Linked DNA regions of Homo sapiens: all the other regions are linked to region 3. The links come from fine-mapping of genetic effects on gene expression. A gene starts in region 3. Each other region holds a variant in brackets. All regions are shown on one strand. Distances are from middle to middle.

The links. PIP is the estimated chance that this variant, and not a neighbour inherited with it, causes the effect.
Region 1: its variant is the best candidate, but not a certain one, in a credible set for the expression of SLC7A6OS in monocytes after interferon gamma (Fairfax 2014, PIP 0.51).
Region 2: its variant is the best candidate, but not a certain one, in a credible set for the expression of SLC7A6OS in NK cells (Gilchrist 2021, PIP 0.54).

Annotation. Positions count from the first base shown.
Region 1 is chr16:68,099,954-68,107,953 of GRCh38, reverse strand. The region is part of intron 1 of NFATC3 (nuclear factor of activated T cells 3); the gene reads right to left. Among named protein-coding and RNA genes, the nearest start is that of NFATC3, 19 kb to the right of the region's middle. The variant C/A (reference allele first, on the strand shown) is at 3,766.
Region 2 is chr16:68,192,039-68,200,038 of GRCh38, reverse strand. All of the region lies in intron 9 of NFATC3 (nuclear factor of activated T cells 3), which reads right to left. Among named protein-coding and RNA genes, the nearest start is that of MIR6773, 37 kb to the left of the region's middle. The variant T/C (reference allele first, on the strand shown) is at 4,819.
Region 3 is chr16:68,305,337-68,316,493 of GRCh38, reverse strand. SLC7A6OS (solute carrier family 7 member 6 opposite strand) reads left to right here and starts at 5,548. Exons shown (of 5, transcript NM_032178.3): 1 at 5,548-5,759; 2 at 5,881-6,159. The coding sequence starts at 5,568. PRMT7 (protein arginine methyltransferase 7) reads right to left here and starts at 5,475. Exons shown (of 19, transcript NM_019023.5): 1 at 5,395-5,475; 2 at 4,318-4,452; 3 at 420-597. The coding sequence starts at 514. LOC124903789 (small nucleolar RNA U13) reads left to right here and starts at 3,154; the gene lies at 3,154-3,255. RefSeq lists an enhancer at 5,579-6,543.

The DNA.
Region 1 (8,000 bases), 210 kb after region 3:
AAGAAACTTAAATAAATTTACAAAAAAAAAAAAAATAAACCACCCCATTAAAAAGTAGGCAAAGGACATGAACAGACATTTCTCAAAAGAAGACATTTATGCAGCCCAACAAACATAAAAAAAGCTCAACATCACTGATGATCAGAGAAATGCAAATCAAAACCACAATGAGATACCATCTCAAACCAGTCAGAAAGGAAATTATTATTATTATTATTATTATATTTTTTTGATACAGTGTCTCACTCTGTCGCCTAGGCTGGAGTGCAGTGGCATGATCTCGGCTCACTGCAACCTCTGTTTCCTGGGTTCAAGTGATTCTCCTGTCTCAGCCTCCCAAGTAGCTGGGACTACAGGCATGCACCACAATGCCCAGCTAATTTTATTATTTTTAGTAGAGATGACGTTTCATCATGTTGGCCAGGCTGGTCTTGAACTCCTGACCTCAACTGATCCGCCCGCCCCGGCCCCTCAAAGTGCTGGGATTACAGGCGTAAGCCACCACACCCGGCCCAGAATGGCAGTCATTAAAAAGTCAAGAAACAACAGATGTTGGCGAGGCTGAGATAGAAAGGCTTTTATACTCTTGGTAGGGATGTAAATTAGTTCAAACATTGTGGAAGACAGTGTAGCAATTATTCTCCCAAAGACCTAGAACCAAAAATATCATTTTACCTAGCAATCCCATTACTGGGTATATACCCAAAGGAATATAAATCATTCTATTATAAAGATACATGCATGTGTATGTTTACTGCAGCACTATTCACAATAGCAAAGACATAGAATCAACCCAAATGCCCACCAATGACAGACAAGATAAAGAAAATGTAGTACACATACACCATGGAATACTGTGCAGCCATAAAAAGAATGAGATCATGGATGGAGCTGGAAGCCATTATCCTCAGCAAACTAATGCAGGAACAGAAAACCAAACACCACATGTTCTCACTTATAAACAGTAGGTGAACAATGAGAACACATGGACACAGGGAGGGGAACAACACACACTGGGGCCTGTCTGGGGGTGGGGGTCACGAGAGAGGGAGAGCATCAGGAAAAATACCTAATGCATGCTGGGCTTAACACTTAGGTAATGGCTTGACAGGTGTGGCAAACTACCATGGCACACATTTTGCTATGTAACAAACTTCCATATCCTGCACATGTATCCAAGAACTTAAAATTAAATTAAATTAAAAAAAAAACAACAAAAAAAAAAGGCGTCCGGGTACGGTGGCTCACGTCTGTAATCCCAGCTCTTTGGGAGGCTGAGGTGGACAGATCACCTGAGGTCAGAAGTTCAAGACCAGCCCAGCCAACATGGTGAAACCCCATCTCTACTAAAAATACAAAAAAGAGGCTGGGTGTGGTGGCTCATGCCTGTAATCCCTGCACTTTGGGAGGCCGAGGCGGGCAGATCACAAGGTCAGGAGTTTGAGACCAGCCTGGACAACAGGGAGAAACCCCGTCTCTACTAAACATACAAAAATTAGCCAGGCGTGATGGTGCACACCTGTATTCTCAGCTAGTCGGGAGGCTGAGGCAGGTGAATCACTTGAGCCCAGGAGGTGGAGGTGCAGTGAGCCAAGATCACACCATTGCACTCTAACCTGGGCAACTAGAGTGAAACTCCATCTCGAAAAAAAAAAAAGAAAAAGAAAAGAAAAAAGAAAACACTACTTTAGCACAACGTAAGTGGATTTTGTTAGAATGTATTACAACTGGTGTTTGCAAAAATATATGTAAGAATACTATGATAATAAGAATACTATGAACAGGATCGGGTGCGGCGGCTCACACCTATAATCCCAGCACTCTGGGAGGCCGAAGCAGGTGGATCACTTGAGGTCAAGAGTTCAAGACCAGCCTGGCCAACATGGTGAAACCCCATTTATACTAAAATATACAAAAGTTAGCCTGGCGTGGTGGTAATCCCAGCTACTAGGGAGGCTGAGGCAGGAGAATCGCCTGAACCCAGGAAGCGGAGGCTGCAGTGAGCCAAGATTGCTCCACTGCACTCTAGTCTGAGCAACAGAGTGAGACTCTGTCTCAAAAAAAAAGAAGAAGAATACTATGAACAATCGTACACCAACAAATTAGACAATCTAGAAGGAATGAGCAAACTCCTAGATATACAGAGATTACCAAAACTGACTCAGAAGAAAAAGAAAATCTCAGACCTCTAACAAGTAAAGAGATTGAATCATAGTCAAAATTCTCCCAGGAACAGATGGCTTCACTGGTCAGTTCTAATGAACACTTAGACAAGAATTAACAGCACTACTTCTCACATTCTTCCAAAAAATAGAGGGAATGCTTCCTAACACATTCTATGAGGCCAGTATTTTCCTGATACCAAAGCAAGACACTACAGACCAATATCCCGTATGAATATAAACACAAAAATCCTCAACAAAATATACACTAGCAAACTGAATCCAAGAGCACATTAAAAAAGACCAAATGTGATTTATCCCAGGAATGCAAGGGTGGTTCAACATGTGAAAATCAACTGATATAATATACCATATTAATAGAGTGAAGAAAAAAAATCCACACAATCAGGGGCCGGGTGTACTGGTTCATGCCTGTACTTTGGGAGGCTGAGGCACGTGGATCACTTGAGGTCAGGAGTTCGAGACCAGCCTGGCAAACATTGTGAAACCCTGTCTCTACTAAAAATACAAAACTTAGCCAGGCATGGTGGCAGGCGCCTGTAATCCCACCTACTTGGGAGGCTGAGGCAGGAGAATCATTTGACCCTGGGAGGTGAAGACTGCAGTAAGCCAAGATCATACCAGTGTACTCCAGCCTGGGTGACAAAGTGAGACTCCATCTCAAAAAAAAAAAAAAAAACCCACACAGTCACCTCAACTGACAGAAAAAGCATTTGACAGAATTCAACATCTTTTTAAGACTGAAACAAACAAACAAAAACCTCAGCAAACTAGGAATAGAAGTAAACTTCCTTAACATGATCAAGAGCATTTGTGAGGCCAGGTGCGGTGGCTCACGCCTGTAATCCCAGCATTTTGGGAGGCCAAGAGGGGCGGATCATGAGGTCAGGAGATCAAGACCATCCTGGCTAACATGGTGAAGCCCTGTCTCTACTAAAAATACAAAAAATTAGCTGAGCGTGGTGGTGGGCACCTGTAATCCCAGCTACTTGGGAGGCTGAGGCAGGAGAATGGCGTGATGAACCCAGGAGGCGGAGCTTGCAGTGAGCAGAGATCGCGCCACTGCACTCCAGCCTGGGCGACAGAGCCAGACTCCATTTCAAAAAAAAAAAAAAAACCATTTGTGAAAAGCCCACAGCTAACATCATAGTGGTGTAAAACAAAAGCCTTCCCCCAAGATAAGAAGCAAGATAAGGATGCATGCTTTCACCACTACTATTCAACATTGTACTGGGAGTCCTACCCAGGGCAATCAAGGAATTAAAAGACATCCAAATTGGAAAGGAAGAAGTAAAACTATTTCTACTTGCAGAAGACATGATTCTATATAAAGTAAAACCCATAAGTTCTACAAAAAACTACAGCTAATAAATGAATTCATTAAAGGTGCAGGGTAAAACATCAACACATAAAATTCTGTTGTTTCTATATACAAGCAATAAACAATCTGAAAAGGAAATTAAGAAAATTCTATTTACAGTAACCTCCAAAAGAAATAATACTCAGGAATAAATTTAACCAAGGACATGAAAAACTTACACACTAAAAATTACAAAACATTGCTGAAATAAATTAAAGAAGA[C/A]CTAAATAAGTGGTAAGACTTCTTGTGTACATGGATTGAAAAACAATGTTAACATGCAATACTCTCCAAAGTGATGTACAATGCAATCCCTACCAAAATTTCACGGGCTTTTCTAGAGAAATGGAAAAGCCAATCCTCAAATTTATACGGAAATGCAAGGGGCCCAGAATATTCTCTGAACAGCCAAAATAACACTGAAAAAGAAAACAAAGTAGGATTAACACTCCAAAACTTACTACAAAGGCACAGCAATCAAAACAGTGTGGTGCTAGCATAAGAAGAGATGTATTAATCAATGGAATGGAAATGAGAGTTCAGAAATAAACCCGAATATCTATGGCCAATTGATTTTTTACAAGGGTGCTAAGACTTTAAATGGAAAAAGAATAGTTCCTTCAACAAATGGTACTGGGAAAACTGGATTATCACATGCAAAAGAATGAAGTTGAACCCCTTCCTCATACCATATACAAAAATTAACTCAAAAAGGATCAACAACCTAAATATAAGAGCTAAAAGCATAAAACTCTTAGAAGCAAAAATAGGAGTACACTGTCAAGACTTCAGATTTGGCGATGGATTCTTAATAGTAAAAGCACAAGCAACAAAAGAACTCAATTAATACAACTTGGTAAAATTAAAAACTTTTGTGCACCAAAGGGCACCATCAAGAAAGTGAGGCCAAGCCCAGTGGCTCATGCCTGTAATCCCAACCCTTTGGGAGGCTGAGGCAGGCAGATGACTTGAGCCCAGGAATTTGAGACCAACCTGGGCAACGTGGTGAAATCTCATCTCCACAAAATAATACAAAACTTAGCTGGGCATGGTGGCATGCACCTGTAGTCCCAGCTACTTGGAAGGCTGAGGTGGGAAGCTAACTTGAGCCAAGGAGGTCAAGGCTGCCTGCCATGAGCCAACATCACACACCATGGCATTCCAGCCTGGGCAACAGAGTGAGACCTTGTCTCAGAAGAAAATAATAATAATAATAATAAAATAAAAAAAAAAGAAGAAAAAAGAAAAGTGAAAAGACAACCTACAGAATGGGAAAAAATATCTGTAAATCTTAGATCTGATAAGGCTTTAGTATCCAGAATATATAGAGTTTTTATAACTGAACAGCAAAAAGTCAAACAGCTGAATTAAAAAATGGACAAAGCACATGAATAGGCATTTCTCCAAAGAAGATATACAAATGACCAACATGCACATGAAAAGATGTTCAACATCACTGGTCATTAGGTAATGCAAATAAAAACCACAGAGAGATACCATTTCACACTCCCAGGATGGCTTTAATTTGAAAAAATAAACAAAAAGAGAAAACAAGTGTTAGTGTGGATACAGATAAATAAGAACCCTCATATATTACTAGTGGCAATGTAAAGTGATACAGCTGAGTTGCTGTAGAAAAGAGTTTGATGGTGCCTCAAAAATTTACATAGAGAATTACCATATGACAAGCAATTACATTTGTAGGTAGTCAGGTACTGCTTGATGATGTTTTGGTCAATGACAGACCACGTATGTGAAAATGGTCTCCTGAGATTACAATGGAACTGAAAAAATCAGAACACAAAGGACAAAGAGAAGAACCTAAAAGACTCAGAGGAGGGTAACAGGTTACACATGAAGAATCAAGAATCAGAATGGCATCAGACTTTTCAACAACAATGGAATAAAATGGAGAAAATGGAGAGCAATGCCTTCAAATTTATGAGAGAAAATGATATCTAACTTAGAATTCTACAACCAGCCAAAATTAAGTGTGAGGGGAGAATGAAGACTTTTTTTTTTTTTTTTTTTTTTTTTTTCCTGAGATGGAGTCTCACACTGTCACCAGGGCTGGAGTGCAGTAGTGCAATCTCGGCTCACTGCAACCTCTGCCTCCTGGGTTCAAGCGATTCTCCTGCCACAGTCTCCCAAGTAGCTGGGATTACAGCCACGCACCACCACACCCAGCTAATTTTTTTGTATTTTTAGTAGAGACGGGGTTTCACCATGTTGGCCAGGCTAGTCTCTAACTCCTAAGCTTGTGATTCACCTGCCTCAGCCTCCCAAAGTGCTGGGATTACAGGCGTGAGCCACTGCGCCTGGTGAAGACCTTTAAATATATAAGGTCACAAAAATTTACCTCCTATTACCATCAGTAAGCTACTGAAGGAAGTACTCCACCAAAATGAGTTGCAAAGAAACAAATGACAACACAATAACAGAAATGCAAAGAACTCAAGATGACAGAGAAGTGAGGTCTCACAATGACAGATGTACAACATGCTAGGTATCCACTAATCCAGATTAGTTTAGAAGGCTCTGAGAGAAAGGAAAGTCTCCAAGAAAATAAAATTGACAGACGAATTGATGTGTCAAAAATGCTGAGACTCAGGCACCTAAAAGATACTTTGGGACCGGGTGCGGTGGGTCATGCCTGTAATCCCAGCACTTTGGGAGGCAGAGGCGGGCGGATCATGAGGTCAGGGGATCAAGACCATCCTGGATAATATGGTGAAACCCCATCTCTATCAAAAATACAAAAAATTAGCCAGGCGTGGTGGCAGGCGCCTGTAGTCCCAGCTACTTGGGAGGCTGAGACAAGAGAATGGCGTGAACCCGGGAGGCGGAGCTTGCAGTGAGCCGAGATCGCGCCACTGCACTCCAGCCTGGGCAACAGAGCGAGACTCCGTCTCAAAAAAAAAAACAAAAAAAAAAACCTAAAACTATAAAACTTCCAAAAGAAAACCTAGCAGCCAGGCACAGTAGCTCACTCCTGTAATCCCAACACTTTGGGAGGCCAAGGAGGAAGGATCACTTGAGCCCTACAGTTTGAGACAAGCCTGGCCAATGCAGTGAAACCATATCTCTACGAAAAATTTAAAAATTGGCGGGGCATGGTGGTGCACACCTGTGGTTCCAGCTATTACAGAGGCTCAGGCAGGAGGAATAGCTTGAGCCCAGGAGGTTGATGCTGCAGCGAGCCATAATCATGCCACTGCACTCCATCCTGGGCAACACGAGCAAGACTGTGTCTCAAAAAAAAGAAAAGAAAAGAAAACCGAGGAGAAAATCTTTGTGAGCATGGGTTAGGCAAAGATTTCTTAGCTGTAACACCAAAAGTGCAATCCATGAAAGAAAAAATTGGTAAGGCAAACTTCATCAAAATGTAAAACTTCTACAAAAGATACTATTAATAGAATTAAAAAACAAATCACAGATTGAGAGAAACTCTCTGCAAAGCATATATTTGATAGACTTGTTTCACACACACACACACACACACACACCCCACACACACACACACACAGAACTCTCAAAATTCAACAATAAGAAAACAACCCAATCTAAAAAGGGGCAAAGACTTAGACACTAGACCAAAAATAATATACGGATGGCAAAAATCACATAAAACAATGGTCAACAGTATTAGTCATGAGAAGAATATAATTAAAACCACAATGAGGTATCACTACACACCCATCAGAATGATTAAAAAAAAAAGGTGTTAATACCAAATGCTGCCCAAGATGCAGAGAAACTGAGTAACTCATACACCTGCTGGTGGGAATGAAAACATTTGGCAGGTTTGGTTTTTTTTTTTGTTTGTTTTGTTTTGTTTTTGAAACAGAGCCTTGCTCTGTTGCTCAGGCTGGAGTACAGCGGCACAATCTTGGCACACTGCAACCTCCGCCTCCAGGGTTCAAGCGATTTCTCATGCCTCAGCCTTCCAAATAGCTGGGACTACAGCCATGCATCATCATGCCTGACTAATTTTTGTATTTTTAGTAGAGATGGGGTTTCACCATGTTGCCCAGGCTGGTCTTGAACCCCTGGCCTCAAGTGATCTGCCTACCTCGGCCTCCCAAAGTGCTGGGATTACAGGTGTGAGCCACCACACCCTGGCAGTTTCTTATAAAACTAAATTCACAGATTGGAGGTCAGGAGGCATTTGTACTTCTGGGTATTTATACCAGAAAAAAAAAGAAACAACACATATCCACATACAAATCTGTACACAAATGTTCATAGCAATTTTCATAATAGCCAATAACTGGAAATAACCCGAATGTCCTTCAATGGGTAAACAATTAAACTGTAGTACATCCATATGATGGAACACTACTCAGCAATAAAACAGAACAAACTATTAATATACTCGACAACTTGGAAGGATCGCCAGGCAATGAGTGAAGAAAAAGTCAACCTCAAATGGTCACATAGGGCCTGGCACGGTGGCTCAC
Region 2 (8,000 bases), 110 kb after region 3:
ACATAAAACAAGAAGAGTAGTTAGAACTCAAAAGGCCCTGAGATGTTCCAAAGAAGCTAGGGAAGAGACACAGACGAATATAATTATCATTAAGAATACCAAAGTGTGAACTCCAGCGAGAAAGAGAATGGAGAGCCTTTAAAACTTCATCTAGGCCGGGCGCAGTGGCTCACACCTGTAATCCCAGCACTTTGGGAGGCTGAGGCAGGCGGATCACAAGGTCAGGAGATCAAGACCATCCTGGCTAACACGGTGAGACCCTGTCTCTACTAAAAATACAAAAAATTAGCCGGGCATGGTGGCGGGTGCCTGTAGTTCCAGCTACTCAGGAGGCTGAGGCAGGAGAATGGCATGAACCCGGGAGGCAGAGCTTGCAGTGAGCTGAGATCGCCACTGCACTCCAGCCTGGGCGACAGAGTGAGACTCCGTCTCAAAAACAAACAAAACAAACCAAAAAACACTTCATCTAATACTGAGAATAATACTTTTTTTTTTTTTTTTAAACAGGGTCTTGGGGCCGGGCGCGGTGGCTCACGCCTGTAATCCCAGCACTTTGGGAGGCAGAGGTGGGCGGATCATGAGGTCAGGAGATCGAGACCATCCTGGCTAACACAGTGAAACCCCGCCTCTACTAAAAAATACAAAAAATTAGCCGGGCGTGGTGGCGGGCGCCTGTAGTCCCAGCTACTCAGGAGGCTGAGGCAGGAGAATGGCGTGAACCCGGGAGGCGGAGCTTGCAGTGAGCCAAGATCGCGCCACTGCACTCCAGCCTGGGCGACAGAGCGAGACTCTGTCTCAAAAAAAATAAAAAATAAAAAAAAAATAAACAGGGTCTTGGTCTGTTGCCCACGCTGCAGTGCAGTGGCGCAATCTCAGCTCACTGTAACCTCCGCCTCCTGGGTTCAAGCAATCCTCCCACTTCAGCCTCCTGAGTAGTTGGGACTATAGGCACACATCACCATGATCAGCTAATTTTTTTTCTTTTTCTTTTTGAGATGGAGTCTCGCTCTGTTGCCAGGCTGGAGTGCAGCAGCGTGATCTTGGCTCACTGCAATCCCCGCCTCCTGGGTTCAAGCGATTCCCCTGCCTCAGACTCCTGAGTAGCTGGGACTACAGGCACGCACCACCATGTCTGGCTAGTTTTTTTGTATTTTAGTAGAGACGGGGTTTCACCATGTTGGCCAGGATGGTCTCGACCTCCTGACCTCATGATCTGCCCGCCTTGGCCTCCCATAGTGCTGGGATTACAGGCGTGAGCCAACACGCCCAGCTATGCTCAGCTAATTTTTAAATTTTTGGTAGAGACAGGGTATATTGCCCAGGCTGGTCTAGAACTCCTGGGCTCAAGCGATCCTCCCATCTTGGCCTCACGAAGTGCTGGGATTACAAGGCATGAACCACTGCACCTGGCCAGAATCTATAATCTTAAGATTACCCTGGTTCCTCTCACAATCAAGGCTCTATGGAGAAAATGGCATTTTCTTTCATGTATTCTTTGTTTGACACCAGTTCTAAAACCTCAACACACTGACTAGAAACTTGATTACAGATTCTAGAAAAACTCCTAGAGTCAGAAAACAGGTTTTAGTCTTTATTCTGCCATAATTCAAGTGTCTTATCCTGGATGAACACCTTAGGCTCTGTGTAAAATTCAGATGTTTTATCCATAAAATGAGAGCTATATTAGAATATTTTCCAGCTCTATAACTACTTTATTTTTGAGACAAGGGTCTCATTCTGTCACCTGGGCTGGAGTGTAGTAGCATGATCACCACTCACTGAAGCCTCGACCTCCTGGGCTCAAGCAATCTTCCCACTTCAGCCTCCCAAGTAGCTGGTATTACAGGCACGTGCTACCCTGCCCAGGTAACTTTTGTAATTTTTCCAGACAGGGTTTTGCCATGTTGTCCAGGCTATTCTCAAACTCCTGGGCTCAAGTGATCTGCCTGCCTGGGCCTCCCAAAGTGGTGGGACTACAAGCGTGAGCCACCATGCTCAGTCTATAACTCCCGAAATTCTGAGCTGAGTTACATTACTATCTTCTCCAGTAAATGTCATTGAATTTATAATAAAAAATTGATGTTAATGTCCACATTTCTAAAAGTAACAGTCAACTAATACATGAATGATGCCTAAGAGATTCCATGTTACTTAAAAACTTCAAAAATTAAAGAAAATGTGTTTTGATCTTTGATTTGGTTAAAAGAGGATATATAAATTTGAATATAAAACAGAATTAACAAAAGTTATTAGGATAAGTATCTTTAAGTAGTATAGCAAAAATTTTTTTAAATTACCGTGTCCTGTGGTTGTAGAGTGGAAATTACTTTGGACTTAACAGTTAACATAATATGAAAAAGTTAAAACAAATTGAGCTTCGGCTAACTACAAAGTTCATTTTAGTCACTTTCAATCCTTTCTGGTATGTTCTATGACTCACTTAAAATACTCAGAGACAGGGTCTTGCTATGTTGTCCACGCTAGCCTCAAACTAGGCTCAAGTGATCTTCCTGCCTTAGCCTTCCTCAGTAACTGGGATTACAGGCACACACCACCACGCCTGGCTCTATGACTTTTAAAGTTAACTATTAGCAGGGCATGATGGCATGTGCCTGTGGTCCCAGTTACTCAGCAGGCTGAAGCAGGAGGAATGCTTCAGCCCAGGAAGTTGAGGATGCAGTGAGCTGTGTTCACAGCACTGCACTCCAGCCTGGGTGACAGAGTGAGATGCCATCTTCAAGAATAATAAAATGAAATAAAGTAAAATAAAATAAAATATAATAAAGCTAACCAGAAAGGGGACATTTGGCCAGATATGATGGCTCCCAGAACTTTGAGAGGCCAAGGTGGGAGAATTGCTTGAGGCCATGAGTTCTAGACCAGCCTGGGCAGTTTAGCAAGATTTCATCTCTACAAAAAATAAAAAAAAATTAAAAACGAGATATTCCAGTGCTATGGAGTTCAAGGTCTATGGGTTTTTATTTATTTATTTATTTATTTATTTTCTTGAGATGGACTTTCACTCTTGTTGCCCAGGCTGGATTGCAATGGCGCAATCTCGGCTCACCGCAACCTCAGCCTCCCAGGTTCAAGCGACTCTCCTGCCTCAGCCTCCCAAGTAGCTGGGATTACAGGGATGCGCCACCACACCAGGCTAATTTTGTATTTTTGGTAGAGACGGGGTTTCTCCATGTTGGTCAGGCTGGTGGAGAACTCCTGACCTCAGGTGATCTGCCCACCTCGGCCTCCCAAAGTGCTGAGATACAGGAGTGAGCCACTGCGCCCAGCCATTTTAATTTTCATTTTATGGATTTACATTAAAAGTTGTTTTTTTTTCTTTTTTGAGATGGAGTCTCTCACTCTGTCACCCAGGCTGGAGCGCAGTGGTGCGATCTCAGCTCACTGCAACCTCCACCTCCCGGGTTCAAGCAATTCTCCCTGCCTCAGCCTCCAGAATAGCTGGGATTACAAGCTCCCACCACCACGCCCAGCTAATTTGAATTTACATTAAAAGTTTGCAGAACTTTTTTTTCTAGGCATCTAAAAATTCTACCTTCAAAGGCAAATCCAAATATCATAATAAATGAGTCAAATTAAAAATATCAAAAATTCATTTTAGGCTGGGCATGGTGGCTCATGCCTGTAATCCCAGCACTTTGGGAGGCTGAGGCAGGCAGATCACCTGAGGTCAGGAGTTCGAGACCAGCCTGGCCAACATGGCGAAACCCCGTCTCTACTAAAAAATACAAAAATTAGCTGGGCGTGGTGGTACACGCCTGTAGTCCCAGCTACTCGGGGGGCTGAGGAAGGAGAACCTCTTGAACCTGGTAGGTAGAGGTTGCAGTGAGCTGTGATTGCGCCACTGCACTCCAGCCTGGGTGATAGAGACTCCATATCAATAAATAAAAATAAAAATAAATTCATTTTGGAGCTTAAATTAAGCATCAAAAATTCAATTTGCAAAAATTATACAGCCAATAATCTAAGGTTTTCAGAAGTGCGTTTTAACAAAAATTGGTCAGGTGTGGTGGCACATGCCTGTAGTCCCAGCTACTCAGGAGGCTGAAGTGGGAGGATTGATCCCTTTAGCCAAGGAAATCGAGGCTGCAGTGAGCCAAGATTGCACTACTGCACTTCAGACCGGATGACAGGGTGAGACTACCATCACAAAAAAATAAAAAGAGTGCGTTTCAGTTTTTTCTGTCCTTTTATTTATTTTATTTTATTTTTTGAGACGGAGTCTTGCACTGTTGCCCAGGCTGGAGTGTAGTGGCCCAATCTCGGCTCACTGCAAGCTCCGCCTCTTGGGTTCACGCCATTCTCCTGCCTCAGCCTCCCAAGTAGCTGGGACTACAGGCGACCACCACCACGCCCGGCTAGTTTTTTGTACTTTTAGTAGAGACGGGGTTTCACCGTGTTAGCCAGGATGATCTCTATCTCCTGACCTCGTGATCCGCCCACCTCAGCCTCCCAAAGTGCTGGGATTACAGGCATGAGCCACTGCGCCCAGCCTGTCCATTTTTTTTTCAATTTTAGAGACAGGGTCTCACTATATTGGCAAGACTGGACTCGAACTCCTGAGTCCAGGTGATCCTTCCATCTCACATTCCCAAGTGGCCAGGACTACAGGTGCACACCATTGTGTACTGCTCTTCCCCCTCTGTAATTACTGCTTGGCAGCACTGAGCTTCTATTAAGTCCCCTGAGGGGTGGCAATGAGCAAATGTGATAGCTAGTCTCTGGGGGGCTACAATCTAGGAACATTCTTTCTTGCTTCTTTTTTGAGACAGAGTATCGTTCTTGTCGCCCAAGCTGGAG[T/C]ACAATGGCGCGATCTCAGCTCACTGCAACCTCCGCCTCCTAGGTTCAAGCAATTCTCTTGTCTCAGCCTCCCAAGTAGCTGGGATTACAGGCACCCACCACCACGCTGGCTTTTTTTTTTTGTATTTGTAGTAGAGACAGGGTTTCACCATGTTGACCAGACTGGTCTCCAACTCCTGACCTTAGGTGATCCACCCACCTCAGCCTCCCAAAGTGCTGAGTTTATAGGCATGAGCCACGGCACCTGGCTCCTTTCTTGCTTGTATGCCCTACTATAATAAAGGGAGCAAAAATAAAATTGCTTTTACAGTTGCCCTCACAGACCTCACCTTTCCAGATCTTCTGTTTTTGCAACAAATCTTAATATATTCAAATAATGAAATACATTTTCCCAAAATCTTTCTAGAGATCTGATTTGTTGCCTATCCGACCCTCTACCCCCAAATCTCTCAACCTGTGGTAAATTAGAAAGAGCAGGTTCTAGCTTTGGGCTCTTTTTAGAAGGAAAAAATATCTTCATTGGTTAAAAAAAATGAGCTGAAGTGCTCTTAAAGTCTCAATAAATCTCCTATCTTCAGTTATATCACAAATGAGTGACTCAAGGTCTCAGTCCTTGTTTCAGGGTAAAAAGCAATGTGAAGAGTTAGTCTAAAACTGCTAAAAGAAACAGGCAACATTTTTAAAGCCAATATTTGCGTAAGCCTTTATTTCAAATCTGTTTTGCATAAAAGTAGCAGCCTGCTCTCTACCTTTTGGTTTCATCATTTAGTAGGGAGTGACACTTATGCCAGCTGTGCACAGAGAACAGCAGCAAAATGCTTAAATACCAGAGTGCTCAAGTACACCAAACAGTGTAACAGATCAGATGCAGTTGTGAACATGGGTTAACGCAGTGAAATTGTGCACATGCATTTCTGGAGAATATTCTCCAGGAATTAGAAAAACCTTGAGGGATTCCGTTTAGTAGAGAGTTCTGTTCTAACCACCATGGCCTGCTGTTTCTGAGAGGCAGCTGTAGTGCCACAAGAAAAAGACTGGATTGAACCAGTCTCAGTTCTGCTGCTTACTAGTTGTGTGATTTTTCAAAAGTCCAACTCTATAAATGTCACTATCTACCTCAGAGTTTGAGGAATGGTAACGATTAGATTAGATAATAAATAGAAAAATGCTATGCAATTTTAGGTGTTGCTCTAGTTTACACATATACCTTCTGTTTACACACAAATGACCTGGCATGTCCCCTCATGGCTTTAAAACCATCCTGTACCATACCAATCACCCCCATCCCCCACCCCGGACCCCATACCTCACCCCACCACAGACATATCCTTCCCTGACAAACATACCCTTCTTCTCTATTTCTGCTGTGTTATCTGACTTGCCTCTGATGTTCATTTACTGAAAACATACTCAGGTGGCCCTTGAACAACACAGCTTTGAGCTGTCTGGGTCCACTTATACACAGCTTTTTTCAACCAAACATGGATCTAAAAAAGAATATTCTCGAATGTGAAATCTGCATATGTGGAGGGCTTTTTAATTTTTTTTAGAGACAGGGTCTCACTTTCCTGCTACCCAGGCTGGAGTGCAATAGTATGCGATCAGCTCACTGCAGCCTAGAACTCCTGGACTCAAGCGATCCTCCCACTTCAGTCTTCCTAGTAGCTAGGACTACAGGCACACACCACCACACCCAGCTAATTTTTGTAGGGTTTTTTGGTAGAAATGAGGTCTCATTATGTTGCCCAGGCTGGTCTCAAACTCCTAGTCTCAAGTAATCCTCCTACCTTGGCCTCCCAAAGCACTGAGACCACAGCTGCTTTTCTTACATGTGGGTTCCACAGGGTGACTGTGAAACTTGAGCATGCATGATTTGGTTGTACACAGGCGGTCCTAAAATCAATCCCCTGAGTACACTGAGAAATGATTATGTCCATACCATACAACCCCCCCATACCAAAATCCATGAATGCGCAAGTCCCTTATATAAAACAGTGTACTATTTGCACATAATCTATCCACATACCCCCTTTAAATCATATCTACATTATTTATAATACCAAATACAATGTAAATGCTAATGGGAACAGTTGTAATATTATATTGTTTAGGGAATAAGACAAGAAAAAAAAAAGTCTGTTTGTACACGTTCAATACAGATGCAACCATCCATTTTCTTCCCCCTAGATATTTTCAATCCACAGATGGTTGAATCCAAGGTGTGGAACCCATGCATACAGAAAGCCAACTGTACTCATCCTCCAAAACTTGGCTCAAATGTCACCTACTCACAGAAGACTTGCTGAATCCTTCCTGTGAAATCTGTTACATATCTCTGCTGATCTTTTTTTTAAATTTGAGGCAGGGTCTCACTCTGTCACCCAAGCTGGAGTGCAATGGCATGATCACAGCTCACTGCAGCCTCAACCTCTCCAGCTCAGGTGATCCTCCCACCTCAGCCTCCTGGCTAGCTAGGACTACAGGGCCACATCACTATGCCTGGCTAATTTTTTGTATTTTGTTTTGTAGACATGGGGTTCTGCCATGTTGCTCAGGCTGGTCTTGAAGTTCTGGGCTCAAGAGATCTACCCGCCTCAGCCTTCCAAAGTGCTGGGATTATAGGTGTGAGCCACTGAGCCTGGCCGAGAATTCTATCTTAATACATCCTTCGCATTCCCAGCATCTAGCTTCATCTTGCAAAAGGACAGCATTCAGCAATATTTATGGAACTAATGGCCTTGAATTCCATTCTCTAGACACTGTGATCTCACTATATATTCTGGAAGAAAAGATCTCGTATTCAGCAACAGATATTAGTGGTAAAACAGATGCTAAGGCATGGATTTTCATATCTACCCTCAAAGTTCTCTCTCTCTCTCTCTCTCTCTATATATATATATACACATACATATATATATATACACACATACATATATATATACACATACATATATATATACACATACATATATATATATATATATATATATTTTTTTTTTTTTTTTTTTTTCCCGAGACGGAGTCTTGCTCTGCCGCCCAGGCTGGAGTGCAATGGCGCGATCTTAGCTCCCTGCAACTGCCACCTCCCGGGTTCAAGTGATTCTCCTGTCTCAGCCTCCCGAGTAGCTGGGATTATAGTCACACACCACCATGCCTGGCTAATTTTTTGTATTTTTAGTAGA
Region 3 (11,157 bases):
GCGCCTGGCCAACAACTCACATACTTTTAAATATTTCTTCTAAGGGAAAAAAAAAACCATTTTCATTTTTTTCATTCAAAAGAATTTAACCATATGATGAACATGTCACCATTTCAGTAAGGCAAGTAAATGATTCAACTTCATCAACACTACTGAGGCTTGGGTTTTCTTTGCTCCGTTAAACAGATGCTGAGGCTCTGCTAAGGCTGCTACATAATGTCTGACTCTCCAAACAGGCATGATTTTGCCTAACTGCTACATATACCTACCTGGCTGAGCAGACCTGCTCAGGACCAACACCAGCCCTCATCATAAGCACTGGGTGACAGCCTAGCCCACGCTCAGACTGGAGCCCAAGGCATCTGCTTTGAGATCAAGTGCCCCACCCAGCTGCAGCCTGCTGTAAACCAACCCAGTACCTTGCAATCTCCTGGTGGTAATCATAGTGTTCATCCTCCTCCAGCCACTCCACAGACCCCGTGGTCGGATTGGCCCGACTGCAGAAGATCTTCATGGTGCCCACTAGCTCCCCAGTTTTAGCACAGAAAAGCAGCCTTGCCAGTTGAGTTCTTGTGGACAAGTCTGACTGTCAGAAATCTATTAACATCAGAAGGAAACAGGAGGTATATAAACAAACGAACAGAAAAAAAATCTATTAACAGCACAATGCCCCAAAATGTGGAGGGGGGAAGGGGAGACAAAAGCGGGGAAAAAAATCAAGAAACTGACAAAAATGTCAAAGCCACTGATAGTATTTGTTAATCGATATTGTAAATGTTTCCAGCAGGAGTTACTTGGTTTTATATTCAGCATATAACATTAAAAAACTACAACAGATTCATACAGATGTCTGGAAACTTCAGCAGGCTTCGGTGCTTCCAAAAGGTTCAAATGAGCCTCACAAGTTCATCTAGGTGCAGCCCTCAAGGCTAGGAGAAGAGATGGGGTACTGTTAAAGAAGTGCCACCAATACTGCCTTCGTATGCTGAACCCTTAGCTTAAGGAAAAATATGAAGATAGAGCAAGTCAAACCAGGAAAACTTTCATCTAAACAATAAATTACAGTCACACATAAACCTAAAAATGGATAATCCCAGGAATATAATGATGAGCAAAAACAGCAAATCACACAACACATGCAATACGATTCCATTTCTATGAAATTTATAGCTATGCAAAATGGAGTGATACGTTCTTCAGGGATCACACTAAAAAGCATAGCAAGGAATCAGGATAGTTAACTCCTAAAAGAGAAGGGAAAGAGATGGGATCAAGGAGGGGTACGCAGTGGACTTCAAAAGTATTGTTCTTTTTCTTAAATTGGGTGGTGGGAACATAAATGTTCACGATATTAGCATTCTTTTTCTTTTTTTTTTTTTTTAAAAGATGGGGTCTCGTTATGTTGCCCAGGCTGGACTCAAACTCCTGGGCTCAAGCATTCTTCCTGCCTCAGCCTCTCCAGTAGTTGGGACTACAAGTGAGTGCCCCACACCCAGCTAATACTAGCATTCCTTATGCTTCATTATTTTTTATAGTGATTACTTCTTATCTATTCAAATTTTAATTTTAAAAGCAATTTTTAAAAACCCTCCATCATCTAAAAAAATTTTGCTTCAAACAAGTAAAATGTCACCAGATTCACGTCTTGTATGGCCTGTCTCCCCAAAGAGATCTATTTCTGGGAGGGAGAGAAACACCACCGCTCAAAGTCTAAAGGCACTCCTCAGCAGGTGTGGGCTCTCCCAATACCCATCCCTCTTACCATGCAGAAAGCAATAGGTGTTCTACACTGCCCTTCCTTTCTTGTTAAACATTGGTGCATCTTCAGGAAAACTTAGAAAGAATGCCTACTCCACATATCCCTAAACATTCCTATGGCATTTTATTGGCCAGAGTTTTTTTTCTTTTGAAGTTATCTAGAGTAAGTAAACATGGAATTCTTACACAAATAGATGAGAAACAGGCTGGGCACGGTGGCTCACACCTGTAATCCCAGCACTTTGGGAGGCCAAGGCAGGCGGATCACCTGAGGTCAGGAGTTCAAGACCAGCCTTGCCAACATGGCGAAACCCTCGTCTCTACTAAAAATACAAAAATTAGCCAGACATGGTGGCGCACGTCTGTATTCCCAGCTACTCAGGAGGCTGAGGCAGGAGAATCACTTGAATCCAGGAGGCGGAGGTTGCAGTGAGCTGAGACCGCACCACTGCACTCCAGCCTGGGCAACAGAGTAAGACTCCGTCACCAAAACAAACAAACAAAAAGCAAATAGATTAGAAACAATCTTCCCTGAACAAACTCAGGCCGGCAGTCAGGTTCAAAGTAGACAATTTGTCCAGGTAAAACTCTACTACTAAAATCTCAGCATACCTATCCCCTAGTCTAATGATTTTCAAACTTTCTGATAACCCCAGTAAGAAATATACTTTAAAATGAGACTCAATACACATACCTGCATGTACGCATACAACTAAATGTTCCACAAAACAATACTGACTTCCTACGAACAAGGCCCTCTGATATGCTCTATTTCATTTTTATTGTTTTTAAGAGATGGGATCTCCCTGCTGTCCAGGTTGGATCACAGTGGCTATTCACAGGCATGATCATTACACTCTACAGCCTTAAACTCCTGGACTCAAGCGATCCTCCTACGTCAGCCTCCCAAGTAGCTAGACTACCGGCATGCACCACGGCACCCAGCTGCACTTTTACTTGCTGGTCAGGACCCATCAATGGGTTGCAACCAGCAGTTTAACAACATTGCTATAATCCACTTTATCTCATGTACTAACATTTATTTTACAGACAGAATATCTAGAACTGTCAGAATCTGTAATGTGCATTAGAAAACTGTGTCCAACAAATGTTGGAGTAGAGAAAGAAATGGCCATATCTGACTGAATGTTCAAGGAAGGCTTAAAAGGTGGATTCAGCTGAGGCAGGAGGAGAAGGAGGGGGTTGTGGACGGAGAAGGCATTTCATCCAATTAGAAAGGCTTAGACAATCATGCACATTATATCAATCAGTTTAGTGAAGTAAAACTGGACCAGGTGTCAAACATATCAATAGGATCCATATGGTAGAGTCCTGAAATACTAATCCTGTGGTCCATGTGGAATCAATTCTGAAGTCACTTCAAGGTTAAGAGTCATCGTTTTGTAGTTCATAAGCGTGATGACTGGGTGTTCATGTGCCTGTGTCAGACGTGCCTCCCTCAAACCTTTACTACATTGGCACGTTACCCATTTGAACTGGAGGAAAAAAAAAACTTATAGTGAAGAACTTTAATCCATAGGATTCCTTTCTTGTCTGTGATGTTGCTGAGTCTAAAACCAGGACCACAGTGTCTTTTCAAAACCTGGAACAGCCCAGGCACGGTGACTCACGCCTATAATCCCAGCACTTTGGGAGACCAAAGCAGGTGGATCACCTGAGGTCAGGAGTTCGAGACCAGCCTGGCCAACATGGCGAAACCCCGTCTCTACTAAAAATACAAAAAATTAGCCAGCATGGTGGCAGGTGCCTGTAATCCCTGCTACTTGGGAGGCTGAGGCAGGAGAATTGCTTGAACCTGGGAGGCAGAGGTTGCAGTGAGCCAAGATCGCGCCACTGCACTCCAGCCTGGGCAACAGAGCAAGACTGTATCTCAAACAAACAAACAAACCTGGAACTATGTCTTGTGTTAACAATTTTATGAAGGCATGAACCTCTTCTGGTGGGCACTACACACCTTCTCTGGCTGAATGCCCTCATCCATTATTATTTGTTCTCTCCCAGAAGCAGTCTACACTACAGATTCAGGAGATATTCTCTGAACCCCTCCTCATTCTCCAAGAGTTGTAAACTTGCATGGCCATTTACAAGGAGGAAATAGAAACCACCATGCCAAGCCCTAATTGTATTAGCCGTCAGACTGCAGAGCAGATGGTCCACTACATTCATTCAAAATGTATTTGCTAGGCGGTGGTGGCTCACACCTGTGATCCCAGCACTGTGAGGGGCCGAGACGCAAGGATATCGAGTCTGGGAGTTCCAGACCAGCCTGCGCAACATAGTGAGACCCCGTTCTCTACAAAAAATTTTTAAAAAAATTAGCCGGGCGCGGTGGCCTGTGCCTGTAGTCCCAGTTACTCCCAGCTACTCGGGAGGCTGAGGTAGGGGAATCACTTGAGCCCGGGAGGCAGAGGTTGCAGTGAGCAGAGATGGCGCCACTGAACTCCAGCCTGGGTGACAGAGTGAGACCCTGTCTTAAAAAAAAAAATATATATATATATATATATATATAAATATACATATATTAAAATTAAAAATTACCCGAGTGTAGTGGCGCGTGCCTGTAGTCCCAGCTACTCGGTAGGCCGAGGTGAGGATCGCTTGAGCCCAGGAGGTCAAGGCTGCAGTGCGCCTCGATCACACCACTGCACTCAGCCTAGGCAGCAGAGTGAGACTCTGTCTCGAAAAAATAAAATAACAAAATTTATTAAATACCTTCTATGTGCCAGGCACTATATTAGGGACTGGAGCCACCACCACAAGCTAGAGAAGACCCTTGCCCTCCAAGAGCTTAGACTCTAATGAGAGAGTAATACAAATTACAGACTACATGAATGCAAGAAATACACAGAGCGTTGTAGAAAGAGAAAACCAAGGTTACAGAAGGACTCTGAGGAAACTAGCATTTGAGATCTACAAGACAGACCGGGATAAAAGTTGGGGAAGAGTTTTTACAGGTCAGGAATCCTTACCCCAACTTTCCCAAGAAAAGGCCCTAAGGTAGAAAGAACTAGGTTGCATAAGCAAAATGTGCCAAAAGCCTGAGCGACCGAAGCACTTTTGCAGAAGCCCCCCGCTCCTCATCTCCTATCACATCTTCTGCTCAATCAAGCTGGGCCTTGTCGACTTCGGAAAGGCGTTTGGATTTTGTTCTAAAAGCACTGGGAGCCACTCAAGAGTTTTAAGCAGAAGCGTATCTACACTAGGCTTACGCTTTTACAGGACCACTCTGGTTGGCGTGTAGTGAATACACGACTCTCCAATTACTCAGAACAGTGAGTGGCAAAGACAACAGGTCTGGCAATCAGAGAACTCGTGGCCCAGTTAGGGGTGCGATGGTTGGAGCTACTGCGGTCTCTGTGGCTGAGGGGAGGCGCCAGGCACGAGTACTGCGACAGAGCCCCGCGAGTGGCAGGCACCCGGCTGCACTGCAGAGCCGGGGCCAGCCTAGAACCCCGCTCTCCTGCAGGCCCGGGTGTCCCGAGCTGCCCCACGCGGAGGAGTCCAAGTAGGCCCACGCTAGGCTCCTCTGCCGAAACCCTGGTGCCAAGGACACCATGCTCGCTGCACACAGAACCCCAAAGCGACCCCACCTTCCCAGCATACCCAGCGCCTCACCCGCCGCGGGAAACCCTCCGCTCGCCTCCGCTGCTACCACTTTTACCGCGGCCAGCACGCGGGGCGGGACCTCGCAGCGTCGAGGAGCGTGCTGGGGGGCGGGTCCTAAAGCAGAACTGGAAAGCTATCCCATCACACCCCGCGAGCTCCCACAGTGCTCAGCGGCAGCCACTATGGAGGCCGCCAGGACCGCTGTACTCCGGGTGAAGCGGAAGCGCAGTGCGGAGCCGGCGGAGGCTCTTGTGCTCGCTTGTAAACGCCTCCGGAGCGACGCGGTCGAGTCAGCGGCACAGAAGACGTCGGAGGGTTTGGAGAGAGCGGCGGAGAATAATGTCTTCCACTTGGTGGCCACTGTGTGCTCCCAGGTATTGGGCGTGGTGCAGCTGGTGTGGAGGGCATCTTCGGGTGCAGCCGGTACGAAACCCGATCCCTGACCCGCTCGCGAACTCCTGCTTACGCTGGCCTCCGTCCCCTGTTGCCCCCTAGGAGGAACCAGTCCAGCCTCTCCTGCGGGAAGTTCTGCGCCCGTCACGGGACAGCCAGCAGCGTGTCCGCCGTAATCTCCGCGCCTCGGCTCGGGAGGTCCGGCAGGAGGGCCGCTACCGGGTGCTTTCCAGCCGCCGATCCTTGGGGACCACCTCGAGCGGCCAGGAGTCCGAGTACACGCCGGGGAACCCAGAAGCCGCCGGGAACTCGGGCTTTCAGTTGTTAGACCTTGTCCACGAGGAGGGAGAACCTGAAGCCGCCTCTGCAGGCTCCTGCAAAGTGAGTATGCCCCTGAAGGTGGTCGCTGGGCTTCTCAGGATGGTAATGCAAGAAGACTGGGCCCAGTCGCAGCACAGTTTCATCTTAAGGGGATGGATGATCCATCCGGCGTGACGGCCTCATTTTACAGATTTGGTTGTTCATCCAACATGTGTTTACTACGTGCCTACGATATGCCAGGTATTTTTTTAGATTCTGTGGATACAGCAGTGAGGACCTAACATGCAGGTAGACAGAAACAGTAAACAAGTCTATTCAGTGTCAGATGATGATAAGGGATGTAAGGAGGCGGGGAGACAAAGCAGGAAGAGTGGTGCCACTTCAGTGAGAGTGTCACTGAGGAAATGACATTTGAGTGAAGACTTGCAGAAGGTGAATGGCAGGGTATTCCACATATCGAGAGGACTTCTAGGCAGAGAACCTGAAAGTAAAGAGGCCCTTAAGCCGTTTCTTTGCTCCTTGCAAGGTGCCTGGAGCCCGGTGAGCTAGAGGAGAGCAGTAAGGAATTTGAGGGGAGGATGCCTGCTAGGTACTTGCAAGGACATTGCCTTTCACCCTGACTGAGATGGGGATCACTGGAGCAAAATAGAGATAGAGCAGGTAGGAAAATTGATCAAAGAGAGGTTAAAGGAATAGTCCTGGATAGCATATCAAGTTTGAGGTAGATTTAGGTCTAGAATGCAAGTTTTCTCACATTTAATCCAGTGCTTTTCTTTATATTACATTTGCTAACTTCATTTGCAATCACTTCCAAAAAAAGTCTACTACATGCAGCAAAACTACAGAAATGGAAAATTCTCCTTGAGGCTGGGCACAGTAGCTGACGCCTAATCCTAGCACGTAGGGAGGCCCAGGCGGGAGGATCACTTGAGCCTGGGGAGGTCAAGGCTACAGTGAGCCATGATTGTGCGGCAGTGGCATTTCAGCCTAGGTGACAGAGTGAGACCCTGTCTCAAAAAAAAATAAAATACTCCCTGTAATCCCAGCGCTTTGGGAGGCTGAGGCAGGAGGGTCGCTTGAGGCCAGCCTGGGCAACAAAGCAAGACCTTGTCACTACAAAAAGGAAGAGGAAATTAGCTGGGCATTGTGGCACGCGCTTGTAGTCCTAGCTACTGGGGAGGCTGGGGCAGGAGGATCACTTAAACTCAGGAATTAGAGATTGCAGTGAGCTGTGATCAAGTCACTGCCCTCTGGTTTGAGCAACAGAGCAAGATACTGTCTCTAAAAAAAAAACCAGAAAATTCTCAACATAAAGTGTGCCCTCTCTTTTTTTTTTTTTTTTTGAGTCAGAGTCTCACTCTGTTGCCCAGGCTAGAGTGCATTGGCATGATGCTGGCTCACTGCAACCTCCAACTCCCGGGTTCAAGCAATTCTCCTACCTCAGCCTCCCAAATAGCTGGGATTACAAGCGTGAGCCACCACACCCAGCTAATTTTTGTATTTTTAGTAGAGACGGGGTTTCGCTATGTTGGCCAGTCTGGTTTTGAACTCCTGGCCTCAGTGATCCGCCCGCCTCAACCTCCCAAAGTGCTGGGATTACAGGCATGAGCCGCTGCGCCTAGCCAATATGCCCTCTCTTGATAAACATTTTTATAGAACTCATTTTAATTATTTTTGCAACTTAAAACAATTATAATTCAAAATGAATCCACAAGCAACAAGCAAATGGTACTAGTGTAATTGTTTATTGTTGTTTTTGTTTTGTTTGAGATGGAGTCTCGCCCTTGTCGCCCAGGCTGTAGTGCAGTGGCGCGATCTCGGCTCACCGCAGCCTCTGCCTCCTGGATTCAAGCAGTTCTCATGCCTCAGCCTCGCGAGTAGCTGGGATTACAGGCATGAGCCACCACACCCGGCTAATTTTGTATTTTTAGTAGAGACGGGGTTTCGCCACCTTGGCCAGGCTGGTCTTGAACTCCTGACCTCAGGTGATCCACCCGCATCGGCCTCCCAAAGTGCTGGGATTACAGGCGTGAGCCACCACGTCCAGCTGGTGCTAGTGTAAGTGGATAGCAATTTGTGTATGATGTCCATAGCCACATCTTTCACCAAAACATTCCAGACTAATGCATGACTTACAAAATGTGTAAAGTAAACCAATGCTCCGTGGAATTGAATCAAGTAAATAGTTCACTAGGCCGGGCACAGTGGCTCATGCCTGTAATCCCAGCACTTTGGGAGGCTGAGGCGGGTGGATCACTTGAGGTCAGGAGTTCAAGACCAGCCTGGCCAATATGGCAAAACCCCATTTCTACTAAAAATACAAAAATTAGCCGGGCGTGGTGGCGGGCGCCTGTAATCCCATCTACTCGGGAGGTTGAGGCAGGAGAATCGCCTGAACGCGGGAGGCAGAGGTTGCAGTGAGCCAAGATTGCACCACTGCACTCCAGCCTGGGCGAGAAGAGCAAAACTCCATCTCAAAAAACAAGAGTAAATAGCTAATTTAATTTTATAAAGAAAACTAGGAGATAAACTGATGACCGATATGAACAGAGATTTTTCCAGTAAAGCAATACCGACTCTAAACATACCAAAAATGTTTGCACAGAGTAATTATAGGGGAAAAATGAATTTAAGCTTAAAGCATGCTTGAGGTTTTATGCATACTAGACTAGCAGGAAAAAAGTAGTTGATAGCAATGCTGGCAAGGCAATGATTAAAAGCGTACACAATTGTAGGAATAAAATTGATGCAAGCCTTTTGGAAAACAGGATGGCATGGGAGCCATGTTTTACATATGTAAATTTATTATTGTTTGGATCTAAAGCCATGCATAATCTAGGAAAATTTTAAAATTAAAAATTTCTAAGGAAATTTAAAAATGACAGCATTTCTATGTTATGTTACAATGAATTTCTCCTTAAATTGACACAATTTACATTTTAAGCAAATAAATTCCTATTAGATAAATTTAATAGGAAATTTAAAAATTAAAGGACTTCAGTTCCTTTTAACTAGTAGTCTCACCTCCAAGATTTATCCTAGGGAGATAATTCAGCAGAAGCAAACAGCTAAGCTAAGCTATGATATTAACAAATGCTACTGTTGATTGACTAAGTAATTATGTCAAATAGCGTGCTAGGTACTTGTTATATTTTCTTTTAATTTAACTCATTTAATCCTCACAAAAACCTTATGAGTGAGATACTTTTCAAATGCAGGAAATGGCACATTCATTGCAACACTATACATGGAGGTTAAAAATTATATCCAAGAGGTTGACACATACAACTGTCTGGACCCTTAGAACTGATAACCATGAAAACTGATTGTGGGCGAAAATATATATGTTTAACAGTACAAAATGCTGTGTGTAGTGAAACTGAAAATATGGGCTGGGCTCAGTAGTTCACACCTGTAATCCCAATACTTTGGGAGGCCAAGAAAGGAGCACTTGAGCCCGGGAGTTAAAGACTGCAGTGAGCCATGATCATACTGCTGCCCTCCAGCCTGGGCGACAGAGCAAGACCCTGATTCTGAGTGAATGAATGAATGAATGAATGAATGAATGAATACACATGGACATAGACTTCAAAATAATTTTCAGCAAGGGTACGGTGGGTTACTCCTATAATCCTAGCACTTTGGGAGGCTAAGGCAGGAGGATTGCTTGAGGCCTGAAGTTCAAGACCATCCTGAACAACATAGCAAGACTCCATCTCTACAGAAATAATAATAATTATTTTTCTTCTAGCTAGGAGGAGTGGTGCACACCTTTAGTCCCAGCTACTCAGGAGGTTGAAACAGAAAGATCATCTAAGGCTAGGAGTTCAAGGCCAGTTTGGGCAACATAATGAAAACCGCCTCTTTAAGCAATAATAGGCCGGGCGCGGTGGCTCATGCCTGTGATGCCAGCACTTTGGGAGGCCAAGGTGGGTGGATCATGAGGTCAGGAGTTTGAGACCAGCCTGACCAACATAGTGAAACCCGGTCTCTACTAAAAATACAAAAATTGGCCAGGCATGGTGGTGCGTACCTGTAATCCCAGCTACTCAGGAGGCTGAGGCAGGAGAATCACTTGAACCCGGGAGGCAGAGGTTGCAGTGAGCTGAGATCACGCCATTGCACTCAAGCCTGGGTGACAAGAGCGAAACTCCATCTCAAAAAAGAAAAAAAATAATTTATGCTCATTATGGGAAATTTGAAAAAATATAGCAAAGGAGGAAAATCTCCCATTTTACCATCAACCCAAAAGTAGGTAGAATAGAACTGGTTTATTTCCTTCTGAGTACAAAATTCTGTATCTGTCATTTTTCTGTATTGCTAGTCTTGTACCTTTTTTTGAGACAGCGTCTCGCTCTGTTGCCCAGGCTGGAGTGCAGTGGCATGATCACGGCTCGGTGCAGCCTCCACCTGGGCTCATGTGATCCTCCTGCCTCAGCCTCTCAAGTAGCTGGAGCCACAGGCCTGCGCTACCACACCCAGCTAATTTTTGTATTTTTTGTAGAGACGGTTTTGCCATGTTGCCCAGGCTGGTCTCAAACTCCTGGGCTCAAACATTCCTCCGACCTTGGCTTCCCAAAGTGCTGTGATTACAGGCATGAGCCACTGTGCCCAGCAATCTTATATTTTAATGGCTGCATAATTTGACTGAGTGGAGGGACTTAGGGGTTGGAGCCAGAACTTTTGTCATAGGTAACTTTAAGTTTGCTCAAGGTTCTGCAGAAAAACTGGCATCTCTAGCTTCTTTTTGACTTTGGAGCAAGGAAGAATTCCTTAGTCTGTAAATTATAGCATTGGTCTCCCCTTGTCTGCCTTGGCCATGGGATCTTCCCCATTTTCCTGCGTGGTGTCTGCTTGGAGCTGTGCAGTGTCCTGTGATGAACCTATCAAGAGGAGCCATCTGCAGCATGTCCCTGTGGTTAATAAACTGACCCATGCTACCAGGCCCCTGGATAATACAGCCTGTCAGCACTGGAGCACATCTTACCTGGGCCATTTCTATTCTGGGGCATTGCATTTCAAACTGTTCTTTCCAGTAGAAAGACTATAGGTGAGCCC